Regions from separate parts of the Homo sapiens genome. Here region 1 is linked to region 2. The links come from fine-mapping of genetic effects on gene expression. A gene starts in region 2. The other region holds a variant in brackets. All regions are shown on one strand. Distances are between the middles of the regions. Region 1 overlaps SLAMF8 (SLAM family member 8). Region 2 holds the start of SNHG28 (small nucleolar RNA host gene 28).

Region 1 (8,330 bases), 22 kb before region 2:
GATCACAGAGAATAACATCCAGTGGATCCCAAGGACCTGGGAGCCGTCCTCGACTCCTTTTTCTCCTTCACTCCCCAGAGCTAATCTATTACCAAATCCTACTGATTACACACCATCTTCGTGTTTCTCAATTCCTCCCACTTCTTCCCATCCCGGTTGCTCCCTTCCTCAATTCAAGTTGCCGTCACTTCTCCACTGGACTAACATGAACAGCCTAAGTCCTGCCCACCTCCAGTGCATTCTCCACATCCCTGCTGGAGTGATCTTTCTAACCATGCATCTAATCCTGTTACGCTCCTGCTTAAAACCTACCTGAGACGCCCCATTGCTCTACAGATAAAGCCCAAACTCCAGTATTGCTTTCAGGTCTCTGCATGATCTGACTCCTACCAACTCTGCAGTGTAATTTCCTACTCCTCACACAGAGAACTACTCTCAGTTCCCCTGGGCACCAACTCTCCCCCTCCAGGCCTTTGTCAGTACTGTGCCCTCTGCCGGTGACACTTCCCTATCCTGCTCCAGGCCGCCCTCGGCTTGGCCTGGCTGATTCCCATTCCTCTTCAAGGCTCAGCTTAACAATTTGTTTTCTGAGCCCATCAAGGCTGGGTGAGATCCCCTGTCACCCTACCTGTGTTCTCCCAGGGCATCTCATTTTTCCCTTCATGGTATTTAACAGAATTCATTTTTATTGATTTCTTGAATGTCTGGCTTCCTCTGTAAGTTCCATGAATGCAGAGACTGGGGTTATCTTCCATATGTTTTATCCCTGGTACCTAGCACAGTGCAACCTCAACTTGAGTGGAGGGAATGTCAGTGGAGGGGCCCCAATTCACCCTATAGCAGCTCAGATGCATGCAAAGAAGGATGAGGAGTGTGGGGCAGGCAGAGTGACCAGGGGCTCTGTTCTTTCAGCCCTACTTCCCATTACAGTTACTGGTGCCCAAGTGCTGAGCAAAGTCGGGGGCTCGGTGCTGCTGGTGGCAGCGCGTCCCCCTGGCTTCCAAGTCCGTGAGGCTATCTGGCGATCTCTCTGGCCTTCAGAAGAGCTCCTGGCCACGTTTTTCCGAGGCTCCCTGGAGACTCTGTACCATTCCCGCTTCCTGGGCCGAGCCCAGCTACACAGCAACCTCAGCCTGGAGCTCGGGCCGCTGGAGTCTGGAGACAGCGGCAACTTCTCCGTGTTGATGGTGGACACAAGGGGCCAGCCCTGGACCCAGACCCTCCAGCTCAAGGTGTACGGTGAGTGTGTCTGACACTGGCTGCCTGGCCCTCTTCCCCCACAAAGCACCAGACGAGCATCCTGAGTCATAGCAGCCAGGGAGAGCTGGGTTCCAGAAAGCTCTGGTCTCTGACCATGTTGCCGACTCAGGGAACAGCTGCTCCCTGGCAGTCACGTCTAAGAAAATTCCTCCTGGCTGCAGCAGCCAGGCTTTGCCATTTCACAGTGCTTGCCTGAACTCTAGCTCAGTCTTTTCTTGGCTCAGTGGCCTTGGACACAATGCTTAGCCTCCCTGGCCTTCACCTTTCTCCTTTGTAAATGGGCATTGTAATATTACCATGTAGAGTACCCACAGGATGAAATGCAGTGGCATTTGCAGTGGCATCCAGGACAGAGCCTGGCCTGTGCTTCCTCAGTTCTAAAGGATCATCATAGACTATAAGATGTGCCACTAGTCTATGTAGTCTATGTAGTCTGTGTAGACTATGTGTCATTAGTCTAAAGGAAAAAAAATGATGTACCATACTAAACTATGACATAATGGGTTTATTTAAAAATCAAATTATAATGAAACTGTAATTAAAAGTATAGAATTTACACATTTCTTAAAAGGGCTTCTTAGAGAGATCTTAACTATATATGATTCATGGGTTCTCTCAGTCATTCATCATTGCAAAACAAACCATCCCAAAACTTACTGACTGAAAACAACAACGATGTTTACTTCTCATAATTCCGTGGGTTGGCAGGCCCAGCTGGGTGCGACTTCTGCTTCGCATGGGTCTGCAGAGCCATTCGCGCAGCTACATTCAGCACCTCGGTTGGCTGCATGGACTGGGGGCTGCGTGGGCCTTGTTTCCCAACAACTCCACCTCCACCTCCACCACAGCCACCTCCACCACCTTCATCATTTGTCTTCTGGTCAAGAAAGAGTGGCTTTCAGCTCTCATTTATCTACCTAATGGGCTAGAAAAGAGGCATGGGTGACCCTAAATCACTGTTTCAGTAAAACCTTAGAAATTTAGATAGAGTGGAAGAGAGGGGAGTCCAGATTTAAGAATGGAAAGCAGAGGTAGCAGCTGGGAAGAGGGTAGCCATGAGGGAGATAAAGATTGTAAGCAAATTGGGGAGATGTCTTGAATCCCCCCGAGACAGCTAACTGGCTGTCCTTGGGCGAGCCACTCAGGGTGCCGATGCAATTGCAAGGTGCCTTTCTGGATGCACGCAGCCCTGAGCCTCATCTTGGCAAGCAGAGTGCTGGCTGGATTTCAGCACCCCCCACCCCCTGCCACCTGTTACCCTGTGACCCCCCTTAGCCCAATGTCCTTGTGTAGTGAATAACCTACCCCACCATACAGGCAGCCCTGGAGCCCCTCCTCTGATCTGAGTCTCAGCTGCCGCACATGTGAAATGAGGACATTGAATGTGATAATACATGCAGCACCCACACCACTAAGCTCTAAAATGCCTTGTTCTCAGCAGCTGAATTACAGATTTTAAGGAAATTGCTGTTTTATTGCTTCCAAATACATAGCGTGATTAGAACTAATTGCACGAAGCTGCCAAGCAGCCGTCCTTAGGAGTTCTGCTTTGACAATAGATAAGAACGATTTGAATTAGCAGATCAGTTACTAGAAATGTCAATGGGTGTTTCTACTGTGCTTGATCGTGTTTGGAAGCAGCTTGTCCTCTTAAGTGATGTAAATATCCCCCCTGTAATCTTTGTTTATACTATTAGTGTGCCCAGCAAATCATTTCTCTTTCATATCACAAATCCCACCAGACTGAACTGGCATTAACGAGGTTTTTCTCTGCTTGACTTTGGAATGCTGTCAGAGACTGAGCCCTCCTGTTGTCACCAGAATGCTCTCCCACTGGCCTCATTTCCACTGAGACTCAGGATTTACTCATCAACCTGTATAGAAAGGGGAATCCATGGCTAGGACACCAGGATATCAGTTTGTTCAGTGACCAGATATCGAGCACCCACTATTTGCCAGCACTACAGAGCTAAGTTTACTAAGCTAACAAGACAGAGCCCCCACCTCTGGGCCCCTCCTTCACAGCATTTTGCACCCTCATAATTATTTAATTAATTATTCATAATCATTTTGTATTTGTCTTTCTCACCAAACTGTAAGCTCCAGAAGGCTAGGAATGTGTTTGTTTTCTTGCCTGACTTAATAAATGCTTGTCATCTCTTGTTGACTGACTGACATATTGTGAGAGAAATACTACAAAAAGAGATAGAGTGCTTGGAGAGCTCAGAGCCATGCCTGGGAAGGCTTCACAGTCAAGGCATTAAGCAATGTGTTCAAGCTGGGCCTTGAAGGATGGGTAGAAGTTTTCTAGGAGGACAAGAAGGGAAAGGCATCTGTGTGCGCAGATGAATTATGTGAAAGCATGAAAGATATTCAAGAGCATGACATGTTTGGGAAAACTGCAAATTAATTAGGATGAGCAGGGAGAAGCAGCAGGAGGTACAGCTGGAGAGATGGGCATGAATCGTTTCCTGAAAGGTTTTGAATATCAAGCTAAGGAATTCAGCTTCTGTCCTGTGGGCAGTGGAAAGCCAGACAAGATTTTGGAACAAGAGAGGCCTAGCCAGAGGTGGCATCTAACCCTGGGTAGATCCCAGAGCCAGAGATGTGGGCCCTGCCCAGC[A/C]TCCCTGAGACCCATACCAGCTGTACTTTTCTTTCCCAGATGCAGTGCCCAGGCCCGTGGTACAAGTGTTCATTGCTGTAGAAAGGGATGCTCAGCCCTCCAAGACCTGCCAGGTTTTCTTGTCCTGTTGGGCCCCCAACATCAGCGAAATAACCTATAGCTGGCGACGGGAGACAACCATGGACTTTGGTATGGAACCACACAGCCTCTTCACAGACGGACAGGTGCTGAGCATTTCCCTGGGACCAGGAGACAGAGATGTGGCCTATTCCTGCATTGTCTCCAACCCTGTCAGCTGGGACTTGGCCACAGTCACGCCCTGGGATAGCTGTCATCATGAGGCAGGTATGCTAAGGGCCAGCAGTCAGTGGTTGAGGGCTTATGAAGCATCAAGTCCACCTCTAACCCCACCCCTCCATGTTCAGCACCAGGGAAGGCCTCCTACAAAGATGTGCTGCTGGTGGTGGTGCCTGTCTCGCTGCTCCTGATGCTGGTTACTCTCTTCTCTGCCTGGCACTGGTGCCCCTGCTCAGGTAGGAGTCCTGCAGGTGCAGGAGGTAGGTGGAGGAAGTGGAGTTCCTGGGGAGGAGGGGGTCTTGGACCTCCTCCTATTTAGGCTTCAGATGGTCTGCCCCTTCCTACCTCTCCCACCTCATCTCTTGGCCTTCTCTAGCTCATATCTTGGTTTACAACCAGACTCAACTACTTGAAGTCTCTTATGTGGTTCTCCAAATGAACTGTTCTCTCACATCCATCTGCAGACCTTTGTACATTGTATTCCCTCTGCCTGGAACACACTTTCCATGATTTCCCACCCAGCCTCCCCCCTTCATGTGGCTATCTCATACTCAGTCTTCAAGGTGTGCTTGCTCCAGAAAGCCTTCCCTGATTGCCCCAATACTCAGGCTGATTAACATCCTTTCTTCAATCTCCATTGCTTACCCCAATCAGAGAACTACTTACATTTACTTCCCCACTGAATTCTGAGCCCTTAAAAGGAGGATGCTGGGTCAACACTGGGCATGTCAGTGGTTCCCAGAACACAACTCTTCCTGAAACATAGCTGGTATCGACAAACATTGTTGAGTGGGAGTCTAAATGACTCCGAACCCCTTCTTGCCTGAGATTTCTACAAAATGGCTCCCTAAGATAAGCTACTCCCTGGCCAGTGGCTGATAGGGTTGCCTTCTTGAGAAGAGGAAGGAAGGGGAAACTCCAAGATCAGACCTGGTTCTAAGCTCTACATACAGCTCAGTCCCTTCCTCTGCCGCAGGATGCCCTGCCCCTGAAAGAACTACCCGACTGACCAGGGCTCCGTGGTCATTTCCATGCCAGGCTGTCGGAGCTGGCTTGTCCCAAGGTGGAGAAAGGGAGTCAGCAAGGAGGAGTCACTGAGCCCTCACTATGGTGGGTGTGTCCCAGAAGGCAGGGTCTGGGTCCAGCCTCTAAGCATGGGGACAGGCAATGCTGATTCCTGTTCATTCTCTCCAGCAGAGAGAAGGGCAAGAGGGAACAGCTGAGCCTGCACTCCACCTGAAGGCCCCATCTGCTGTGGGAGGGTATTGCCCTGGCCCCTGGCCCCTGGCCCCTGCCCCAAGAGTCCCCAGGATTTGTGATAAGAAAGTGGAAGCCAGGAAAACAGCAGGGAAAAAATACCTTTATTGAGATATAATTCACATAGCATACAATTCACCTATTTAAAGTATACAATTCGATGCCTTTTAGTGTATTCGCAGAGTTGGGCATCCACCTTCACAACCAATTTTAAAACATTTCTATTACCTCCCCCAAAACCCCATAACCCCTTAGCCATCACCTCCCAAATCCCCCATTCCTCCCACAGCACTAGTCTGCTTTCTGCCTCTATGCTTTTGTCTTTCCTGGACATTTCATATAAATAGAACTATACACTATGTGGCCCTTTGGCCAGGCTTTTTTCACTTAGTGTCATGTCCTCAAGGCTCATAAAATAGCATCTTTGGCCACTGAGAAGGGACCCAACAACCTGGGATAGTAGAAAGCTCCATGCAGGGAGTCCAGAAGCTGGTTCTGGCTCTGCCTCATGGCTTCTGTCCAGTGATTTAACTGGGTCCACCACAGTCCTAACTTTCCATACCTTCTACAATTAAATGTATGGCATAGTTGCAGGCCAAGGTTAGATACTAGGAAGAATTTCCTATTCTTGAAGAGCCTCCCTTTCCAGGGTGTTGGAAGACCAGGAGAAATGTTCCTTTACCTAAGGTGACCTTGGGCTAACACACTGAGGATTCAGAGGCCTGCAGGCAGGCCAAGGATTCCAAGACTCCAAACACTGGAGGGGTAACTTTCTTTCTGATGTCCTTACCAGGGAAAAAGAAAAAGGATGTCCATGCTGACAGAGTGGGTCCAGAGACAGAGAACCCCCTTGTGCAGGATCTGCCATAAAGGACAATATGAACTGATGCCTGGACTATCAGTAACCCCACTGCACAGGCACACGATGCTCTGGGACATAACTGGTGCCTGGAAATCACCATGGTCCTCATATCTCCCATGGGAATCCTGTCCTGCCTCGAAGGAGCAGCCTGGGCAGCCATCACACCACGAGGACAGGAAGCACCAGCACGTTTCACACCTCCCCCTTCCCTCTCCCATCTTCTCATATCCTGGCTCTTCTCTGGGCAAGATGAGCCAAGCAGAACATTCCATCCAGGACACTGGAAGTTCTCCAGGATCCAGATCCATGGGGACATTAATAGTCCAAGGCATTCCCTCCCCCACCACTATTCATAAAGTATTAACCAACTGGCACCAAGGAATTGCCTCCAGCCTGAGTCCTAGGCTCTAAAAGATATTACATATTTGAACTAATAGAGGAACTCTGAGTCACCCATGCCAGCATCAGCTTCAGCCCCAGACCCTGCAGTTTGAGATCTGATGCTTCCTGAGGGCCAAGGCATTGCTGTAAGAAAAGGTCTAGAAATAGGTGAAAGTGAGAGGTGGGGGACAGGGGTTTCTCTTTCTGGCCTAAGGACTTTCAGGTAATCAGAGTTCATGGGCCCTCAAAGGTAAATTGCAGTTGTAGACACCGAGGATGGTTGACAACCCATGGTTGAGATGGGCACCGTTTTGCAGGAAACACCATATTAATAGACATCCTCACCATCTCCATCCGCTCTCACGCCTCCTGCAGGATCTGGGAGTGAGGGTGGAGAGTCTTTCCTCACGCTCCAGCACAGTGGCCAGGAAAAGAAATACTGAATTTGCCCCAGCCAACAGGACGTTCTTGCACAACTTCAAGAAAAGCAGCTCAGCTCAGGATGAGTCTTCCTGCCTGAAACTGAGAGAGTGAAGAACCATAAAACGCTATGCAGAAGGAACATTATGGAGAGAAAGGGTACTGAGGCACTCTAGAATCTGCCACATTCATTTTCAAATGCAAATGCAGAAGACTTACCTTAGTTCAAGGGGAGGGGACAAAGACCCCACAGCCCAACAGCAGGACTGTAGAGGTCACTCTGACTCCATCAAACTTTTTATTGTGGCCATCTTAGGAAAATACATTCTGCCCCTGAATGATTCTGTCTAGAAAAGCTCTGGAGTATTGATCACTACTGGAAAAACACTTAAGGAGCTAAACTTACCTTCGGGGATTATTAGCTGATAAGGTTCACAGTTTCTCTCACCCAGGTGTAACTGGATTTTTTCTGGGGCCTCAATCCAGTCTTGATAACAGCGAGGAAAGAGGTATTGAAGAAACAGGGGTGGGTTTGAAGTACTATTTTCCCAGGGTGGCTTCAATCTCCCCACCTAGGATGTCAGCCCTGTCCAAGGACCTTCCCTCTTCTCCCCAGTTCCTGGGCAATCACTTCACCTTGGACAAAGGATCAGCACAGCTGGCCTCCAGATCCACATCACCACTCTTCCACTCGATTGTTCCCAGATCCTCCCTGCCTGGCCTGCTCAGAGGTTCCCTGTTGGTAACCTGGCTTTATCAAATTCTCATCCCTTTCCCACACCCACTTCTCTCCTATCACCTTCCCCCAAGATTACCTGAACAGGGTCCATGGCCACTCAACCTGTCAGCTTGCACCATCCCCACCTGCCACCTACAGTCAGGCCACATGCCTGGTCACTGAATCATGCAAAACTGGCCTCAGTCCCTAAAAATGATGTGGAAAGGAAAGCCCAGGATCTGACAATGAGCCCTGGTGGATTTGTGGGGAAAAAATACACAGCACTCCCCACCTTTCTTTCGTTCATCTCCAGGGCCCCACCTCAGATCAAAGCAGCTCTGGATGAGATGGGACCTGCAGCTCTCCCTCCACAAGGTGACTCTTAGCAACCTCATTTCGACAGTGGTTTGTAGCGTGGTGCACCAGGGCCTTGTTGAACAGATCCACACTGCTCTAATAAAGTTCCCATCCTTAATGACTCACTTGTCAACTAGTGGACTAATTAACCCTCC
Region 2 (8,330 bases):
CTATCTCTCATGTCTCTCAGCACGCTCTATAAAAGCAGAGCTGGCAATGCCATCACCCCTTTGCAAATACCCAAGTCATCTTGAGGGTTTCCTAGTTATGTGTTACTAAGAAGTGTTTAGGGGCTTCCTAAAGACACTTTGAGGCCCATGCACACCCCACACCTCCTGTGGCCCTAGAATAGGAGCAGGAAAAATGAGGAAGACTAGCTTCTCCTCAAGAGAAAAGAGACAAAGAGAGAAGAAAGAGGCTGGGCTCTCAACAAGCAAGCAGCTGGGGAAAGGAAAGTAGAACGAAGTGACCTTGAAGTACTGTGCTCTTCTGAACACCTCCTACCAACTAGACCAGACAAGTGTCCAGTTGTGTCCCTGTTGCAGCCATCCTGTATGGAGTGCAACCACTTTGTCCACTAGAGGCAGCTGAATTAGAAATACAATGCTCTGGGGTCCCTAAGAGTAGAACTTGGATCAAGGGATAAAAGCTATATGGGGACAAAAACCGGGTTCAGAGAAATGTTCTGTTGAATATTGACAGTCAGAGGCCAAGTGGCCTGCCTCGGAAGGTAGTGAGCTGCCATTGGAGGTTGTCAAGAAGACGTTACATACCCTTTGTCAGGAATGCTATAGAAGGAATTCAAATGCCAGAGAAACAGCCTGCTGTCCTGGAATCAAACATGCCTAGATCAAATCCTGAATTATCTTTATTATCTTTGTTGCCTTGGTCAAGATACCTAATCCCTCTGAGCCTCAGTTTATTCATCTGTATAATGGGGATAATACACAACCTCATAGGACTAAAGTAAGGAATAAATAAGACAAAAAATCAAAAAGCACCTAACACTTAATAGGTGCTCAATAAATGCCAATCCCCTTCCCACCAAAAGGGGGAGCTGGGTTAGTTGGCCTTGAAGGTCTTTCTACACCAGAGAGTATGACTCTAAAACACTTCCTGGCTATTAAGAAAGAAGGCATACATCTGAAAGAGATAAAAGAAGTCAAGATTAGGTCAATGAGGGGAAGAGAAAGAAGGATGCTAAGAATGGTCAGGGATCATTTAGAGGTCATCCATGACAGAGCCGTGTTTCCTCTCAACTGACCTTCTAGAATAAAATGGAAAAGTAAGATTGGGGATTTAAAGTCCAGCCTGAGGGGCCTCAGTTTCCCTATCTGTATAGTGAAGGAGTAGGATTTTTTTTAGGTCAGACTTCAGAGTAATCATATTGAACTTTACTTCATAATGCTCAGTAAACACAGCTCATTATAAATCCAGCCAAGGCCTTTCCCAGCAACTCATGCAGCTATATAAAATCACTAATACCTGCAGAGTGCACATCCCTTCCCAAGGACAGGGGGCCTGGGAGAATGAGATGACTAGTTTTATGTGACAATGGATGTGAAACAGCAACAGTATTGACCGACACCGAATTAAGGGGAAAATATGAAGGAAAAAAATCAAAGACAGACAGACAGACAGACAGACACACATACACACACACACACACACACACACACACGCAGCAACCTGCCAAAAGAATAATATTGAGATCCTGGTTTTGATAGAACTAAATATAACATCTTATATTTCCACAAGCAAATTGCCCAACAAATTGAAATGGAAATATTCTAATGTTACTACAGACAGATATAATGTCAACAACTTGCTATTCTCCTCAATAATTCATTATAAACCAATTTAAAGACCTACAGTACATTGAAAACAACCACCAAAATATTCCAGAGTTAAGTGTAAACAAATAATATGAAAGAATCAAGAAGGATGACCAAATAAAATCAAGGCAGGCCAAACAAATGAAACACAAAGTCCAAAAGGATTCTGAGGAAGGTCTAAGCTAAGTTCTAACATCCCTGAAACAAGGGACCAAAGTGGTAAGGTAACACCATCCAAGTTGTAGCATGGAAATGATAGAACCCACACTACTTTTCCTGATACTTGTCTCCTAGCAGACATGAAACTGCTGATTTCAGGAACTTACCCTTTCAAATATATTTTTGCTACCAAAGCACAAATAATCTAACATAAAATGAACTCTTTAAATACAAATAAATTACATATAAAATAAGAAACAGCCCAGACAATTCAGATGTACAAGCACCTACCCTCTGCATCACTATACTGTCCTCATCAGCTCATCAAATACAAAATCATTCACATTCATCAAATACCCAGTTGAACTATGAGGTTCCTTCTTAAATCTTGGGCATTTAGGATGGACCTAACTGTTTTTTTTTAAGTTTAATCTTTCTCAGCACAGGAAATTAATCCAGCCAAGCTTCTCCTATTAATCATTTCTATTCCATATTAGAAATTCTTAAATTATAGGCAAGTGGGCATTGCATTAGCAAAGTAGATTCCAATGCCCAACAGAGATGATGTTGAACAAAGAAGGATTAGTAGAGCTTGTCTACTTGTCTGCATCCCCCTCCTTGCTGTGTGACCACCTGGTCCCTTTATCAACAAAGGAACATCTATAACACTGCCCACTTTACTTACTGTTTGCTTAGCAAATATATCCTTGGAACTTTATCTCAAACATTACTCTTCAATTAAGCACTCCCCATCTCACTAAACAAGAGAGGACGTCTTGCGCCTATTAACAAAAACAGTGCTTATTGATTTCCACTTTTGAACCAAAAATGACTAAAACATCCCCCAAAATACATTGTAAATATCATGACAAGGTGTTTAACAAAACAAGTGCTGGTAAATACTAAATAGCTCAATTAATCCCTATCTAGGAGTGGCTGACTACTTCAGGGTGTAAGAACGTGGAGCTGGATCTCAGAAAGGCCTAGATTCTCACCACAGAATATTCCATCATAAGGCAGTAACTGTAAAATATCTAAAAACTTTTTTTTTCTAGCATAAAGTAATGCTGCCACACTCATTCACTTGGTATTTCTCAAACATCTCCTGCAGAATGGGCTCTGCACAAGTTGACCAACTGCAGACAAATGAAAAAAAAAAAAGAACCACAAAAATAATTGTTCTAAAACACCAGCAGCATCTAGGTGAAGGGATTTACCATACTCTCCGAGTTCCATAATATATGCTATATAAATATTATTCCCCCTCCTTCCTGCACTTCACCCAGCACCCTAGAACTGTGGCACTTAGTTTTTTAATATAAGAGGTTGTAGTCTTATTTTCACATGTCCTTGTTTCTGTCTCACCGGATGCCTGTGCCTTCTGTGCTCCAAGGACTGGTTTCCTTTTAGCTTTCAGCAACATACAAAGACTCCCTAGACCTTCAGAGCACATTATTCTCAATAGAAAATCTTGACATGTGAAAACTTTGAATATTTAGAAATGGCAAGTGTATTGCACTTTGTCGGTTCCTCAGTTTATTTTACGGTCGTAGATATTCTGAGCTAATTCTTTTTGTCTTTGTTTTCCTTTTATCTGCACTTTGTATGTTGTTCAGAGGAGTTGCCCTGGATGGCCCCTTCCAGCTCTGACTGCCAGGGATCTAAGCAGGAGGGAGGAGAGGGGGCGTGGTCGAGGCGAGCGACAGAAGCAACCCTCCCCGGCCCTGGGCAGGGTTCGCCACCCCGTGCCCAACCTCCGTGGAACGCGGACAGCCACTTCGGACTCACGTCTCAATGTTTCTTTATTGTGCTAACACTGCTGCCTCAGAGCTCAGACCTCACACACAGAACAATTCGTCCAGACAGACCCCCACCCACCCGGCCCCCGGGGCCCTCTGCTTAGGCTGGGGACACCAGGCCTCCGGCCTCAGCCGCTCTAGGACACTCAGCCTCCTCCTCCCTCCCTCTCCCCCAAGCCTTCGGTCCCGGGGGTGCGGAGAAGGCTCAGGATCGCCTTCCTCCGCCCTCGCCCGCCCCTTCCCACTTTTGGGGAGGAGGCTCTGCCTCCCTACGCATTTCCTTAGGGAAATGCCTTCACCCCCAGCCGCCTGGCAGCCTGGGGCGAGCGAGGTCGTCCCCAGCCCCGACGTGTCCCCAGCTGCAGACAGAGAGCCCCGCGCCCTCCTCCTGGCTGGGGCGCAGCCCGGCCCGGCGCGCGCGCTCACACCAAGAGGCCGTTCTTGCACTGCACCGGCCCCTCGGCGCAGTCAGCCGGCTCCGCGCTCTTGACCTTGACGTAGACCGGGGAGGGGCCCGCTTCGCAGGCGGCGGCGGCGGTGCAGGGCGCCAGGGCCACGTCCTCGGGGCCGCCGCAGGGGGGAGGCGCGTACTTGCGGCGCAGGGAGCGGCTGACGTTCTGCGTCGGGTACCCCAGGAGGTGGGTGACGCGGCTGCCGCGCCCGCTGGCCTTGCACCCGGGCGCCACGGCGTCCTCTCTGTGGAAAACAACAGGCGGGCGGGTGAGCGGGCTGCTCCGCAGCGGGGCGTGGGCACGGCCTGGGCAGAGCCGGGGGCTCTTGGCAACCTCTTGTCTCCCGCGCCTCCCTCCACCTGCCCTCGTCTCTCTCCCTCGGCCTCGACCTACTGTCCTTTGTGACCCTTCCTGGGTCGGCGACCCTGCAGCGGTCCCGGAGCCAGCATCCCCATCCTCCAGACAGGGCTTGTCCACGCGTATCTGGAGAGCCCTGCAGGCAGCCCCCTCCAGGCCCCTGCAATCCCTTTCTGATGTTTCGCAGGCCCAGAAGAAGGTGCTTTTCCTCTTCTTCTTTCCTTAGCTAATCCTGACCTTGCTCGAGCAATCTCTCTCTTTCTCACCTCCTGCCCCTCAGTCTTCTCCATCTTTCCCTCCATCCCCGAGGCATTGCAATCATTAGCACTACTAGACTTGTTCTATTTTTATTTCTAGTTTGCTTCTAATATAAGTTATTAGCACTATTCTTATTATTAGCTCTTCTTAAATAATAATGTCAGAGTTCTTACCGGCGCAGTACAGGGGAAACGTGAAAAAACATAGGCCCTGCCCTCCAGGAGCTTACAGTCTAGACAAGACAGACAGGTGCGTAGGCAGGAGGGAAATGGAAGGCAGGGAGCAGAGGTGAAGACTGGGGTGGCAGGGGGAGGGGAAAGCCATGAGTTGGGTGGCAGGTCGACATGCCGCAGTCCCAGCACTCCGTGGCGATGGCGGGCAGGGTTGGGGTGGGGGGCCCAGCCGGCCGGTGGCAGGCAGGAGTGAGGTGGGCAGGGCGCCGGTTCCCTGCCGCACAGCAGCATGCAGCATGCATCAGGTTTTACCTGATCTCACTAGCCAAGTCGCCGCAGGCCCCTCCGCCGACCCCGCCGCCGTTGCCGTAGCCGAAGGCACCGCGGGCGCCGCCAGCCCCGGAGCCCCCGCAGCAGCAGCAGACGAGCCCCCAGATGCCTACGGCCAGGCAGCCCAGCGCGAGCAGAGAGCCCAGGACGATGCCGATGATCACGCCTATACGCCGGGAGTCTGTGGAGAGAAGTGGAGGCAGGTCAGGCTTTCTCACAGCCTGGCAGGTGCCTGAGGGAACAGCACCAGGAGGTGCCAGGTCAGGGGTTAATGGGAAAGAGGGAGAGGGACCCAGGGGGTCTCTTAGCCCTGGAACACCCAGTGGGGAAGATATGGGGAGATGCAAGTTAACCCCTCGTGTCAGCATGCTTCTCCCAGGGCTTCCAGCTGCTCTGGGCTCTAGAGCTCAGAGTGGAAGCTGTGCTGGGCGAGCTTGACCCAGCTCAATAGGGTCAAGATCGTACCCACTGATCTTGGCCCACTTGTAGGAAAGGGGCTGGGAGCCCCCACTGGCAAATGGATGGCAGTGGAAAGGCAGAAGCAGCTGAGGCTCCAAACCAGAGCCCAGCCTCCTCCAGTTCAACCCTCCCAACCACCCAGCCCTCAAGACTGCTGCACCTACCTGAGACCTTCACCTCCACCACACAAACACTGTAGCCCACGTTGTTGGCCACTGTGCACTGATACAGCCCATCATCTGCTCTGGAGATATCCTTCAACACCAGGTCCCCATTGTTCAGGCCTGAAAGTGAAGTGGAGAGAGGCCTGGTCTCTGAGAGCTCCCACCCCAACCTCAGTCCCTGTGGGGTGGGGGATGGGACACCCACTCTAGAAGAAGGGAAGGCTTATGCATGTGTGTACACCCACACCCACACACACACACACACACTCCACTCTCCAGGTGAGTCACCTTCCCCCTGCTGTGAAAGAGATGCAAGAAAGGACCTCTCTCCCAGCAGCAAGACAGGGACACCATTAATTCACTCTGACCTTAGGGAAATATGTACGCTCTCTGAGCCTTGGTCTCCTCCTTTGTACAGTGAGGACAGGAGAAGCCAGGGGAAGAGGAACTCTAAGGTCCCTCCTAGCTCTATTATTCTTTGTTTGACTGAATATTTTCAGCTTCTCTATGTACTAGGAGCTTTACACACCTCCCCCATTTAATCCTTGCATGCCCATGAAAGGTATATGTTAGTATTCCCTTTCCATATATGAAGAAATTAAGGCACAGGGAGGGTAAGCCACTTGCCTTAAACTTGGAGCCAGTCAGTGTCCCAGCCAGGATTCAAGCCCAGCTCTGTCTGAGACCAGGCTCCCTCCAAATTCGCCATAGTACTTTTGACTGACTCTCCACATTTGCCTTATCATCTGCTCTCAATAGCAGCTGCTGGGCCAGGCACGGTGGCTCACGCCTGTAATCCTAGCGCTTTGGGAGGCCAAGGCGGGCGGATCGCCTGAGGTCAGGAGTTTGAGACCAGCCTGGCTAACATGGTAAAACCCCGTTTCTACTAAAAATACAAAAAATTAGCCAGGTGCGGTGGTGCATGCCTGTAATCCCAGCTACTCGGGAGGCAGAGGCAGGAGAATCGCTTGAACCCGGGAGGCAGAGGTTGCAGTGAGCCGAGATCATGCCATTGCCCTCCAGCTTGGGCAACAAGAGCGAAACTCTGTCTCAAAAAAAAAAAAAAAAATAGCAGCTGCTGGGGCAGGCCCAGAGGGAGGGTCTCCCACAGGGATTCCAGGTTTGATTTGATGGCACTGATAACCCAAGGAAACCCCAACAGGTCCCAGAGTCCCTGATCTTCCACTCACCCCCGACTGCCCTCATCCAGGGCCCTCTCACCTTGGTTTATGGAGCTGTGGAAGGACTCCTGGTAGGACAGCTCTGAGTGGTAGCTGTGCTGGGAGGTGTAAGACCCAGCTCGATAGGGGTAATGGTGCCCACTGATCTTGGCCCACTTGTAGGAGAGGGGCTGGGAGCCCCCACTGGCATAGCACTTCAGCACCACATCGTTGCCATATGTCATGTGGCCCTCTGTCCAGCACATGGGCACTGCAGGTCGTGCTGCAAGGAGGCAGACAATTGTAAGCCAGGGCCCAGCCAAGAGACAGAGCCAGGCTCAAAGTGGCCAAGCTGCCCTTGGCTCTTAAGCCAGGGGGAGAGGAGCTTAGAGGAGTCTGGCCATACCTTGGACAGTGACAATGACCTTCCGGGTGGCCATGGTGGTCTTCTTCACCCGGCACTCATAAGTGGCTGTATCAGATACCTGCAGGTTCATGAGGTTGATGGAGGCATCGTACTGGCTTGGGTCTGAGGCTGCAAAGCGGACCCTCTGCTGCAGATGGGGAAGGCTGCCATGGTTGATCCTCTTGTCCTGGTAACTAAGGAACTGTGAAGAGGAGAGGAAAACAGGTGGTGAAACAGGCAGAGCCAAGAAGGGCCATGTGGATTGGCTGCTTTGGGCAATTCACTGAACTTCTCTGAGACTCTTTTCTCAGCTGAAAAAATGAGAATAATGATGCCTGAGCCACTGACCTCTTACAGAACTGGTGAGATCAGGTGAGATCAAGCACTTGGAAAGATATATGGTCAGACTGGGAACTTTTTGAAGGCAAAGACTACAACTTATCTTCCTTTTAGAATGGGATGGGAGGAGGTAGACTGACTGGCTAGCTTAATTCACAATTGCAGAGCTCTCATCCCCATTGCCTCATTCCCTGAAAGGCCTTGGGGGAGGTTCAAGGTCAGTCTTCTCCCTTTGGGATGTTGGCTGTCCAACAGGTAGACATCATGAAGCCTAGAGGAAGGAGACCCCTGTGCCCAGCACTCACCACGTTCTCTCGGTGGTGGGCGGGGTCTGAGTTGACCTGCATCCACTCGATGTCCAGCCCATTGGGACCATAGTCCTCAGGGTCCAGGACGTAGGGGCAGCCCAGCCTCACATTATCACCTTCTGCCAGGTACAGGACCTCCTGTCCATCCCCGTTGATCCGCACAGCAGACAGCAGTGCTAGGGGGAGGGCAGAGAAGATGGGGTGGTAGGAGCAGAAGCAGGGCTTCAGGAGGAGTCAGTGTCAGCCCTTCCCTTCATATTCTCTGTCCACGGCACCCAGAGGTCAGCAGTGCTTTCATAAA

What was found. PIP is the estimated chance that this variant, and not a neighbour inherited with it, causes the effect.
Region 1: its variant is fine-mapped to the expression of SNHG28 in lung (TOPMed, PIP 0.95).

Annotation. Positions count from the first base shown.
Region 1 is chr1:159,828,954-159,837,283 of GRCh38, forward strand. It overlaps SLAMF8 (SLAM family member 8), which reads left to right. Exons shown (of 5, transcript NM_020125.3): 2 at 913-1,239; 3 at 3,923-4,228; 4 at 4,309-4,416; 5 at 6,231-8,330. The coding sequence ends at 6,307. It overlaps SNHG28 (small nucleolar RNA host gene 28), which reads right to left. Exons shown (of 5, transcript NR_147125.1): 5 at 5,525-7,202. Among named protein-coding and RNA genes, the nearest start is that of SLAMF8, 6.2 kb to the left of the region's middle. The variant A/C (reference allele first, on the strand shown) is at 3,884.
Region 2 is chr1:159,850,708-159,859,037 of GRCh38, forward strand. SNHG28 (small nucleolar RNA host gene 28) reads right to left here and starts at 4,330. Exons shown (of 5, transcript NR_147125.1): 1 at 4,050-4,330. VSIG8 (V-set and immunoglobulin domain containing 8) reads right to left here. Exons shown (of 7, transcript NM_001013661.1): 2 at 8,027-8,205; 3 at 7,383-7,584; 4 at 7,038-7,259; 5 at 5,817-5,936; 6 at 5,176-5,374; 7 at 3,609-4,319. The coding sequence ends at 4,046. LOC124900450 (small nucleolar RNA SNORD64) reads right to left here and starts at 1,265; the gene lies at 1,199-1,265. LOC107985216 (a long non-coding RNA gene) reads left to right here and starts at 4,140. Exons shown (of 2, transcript XR_001738263.2): 1 at 4,140-4,261. RefSeq lists a silencer at 3,943-4,352.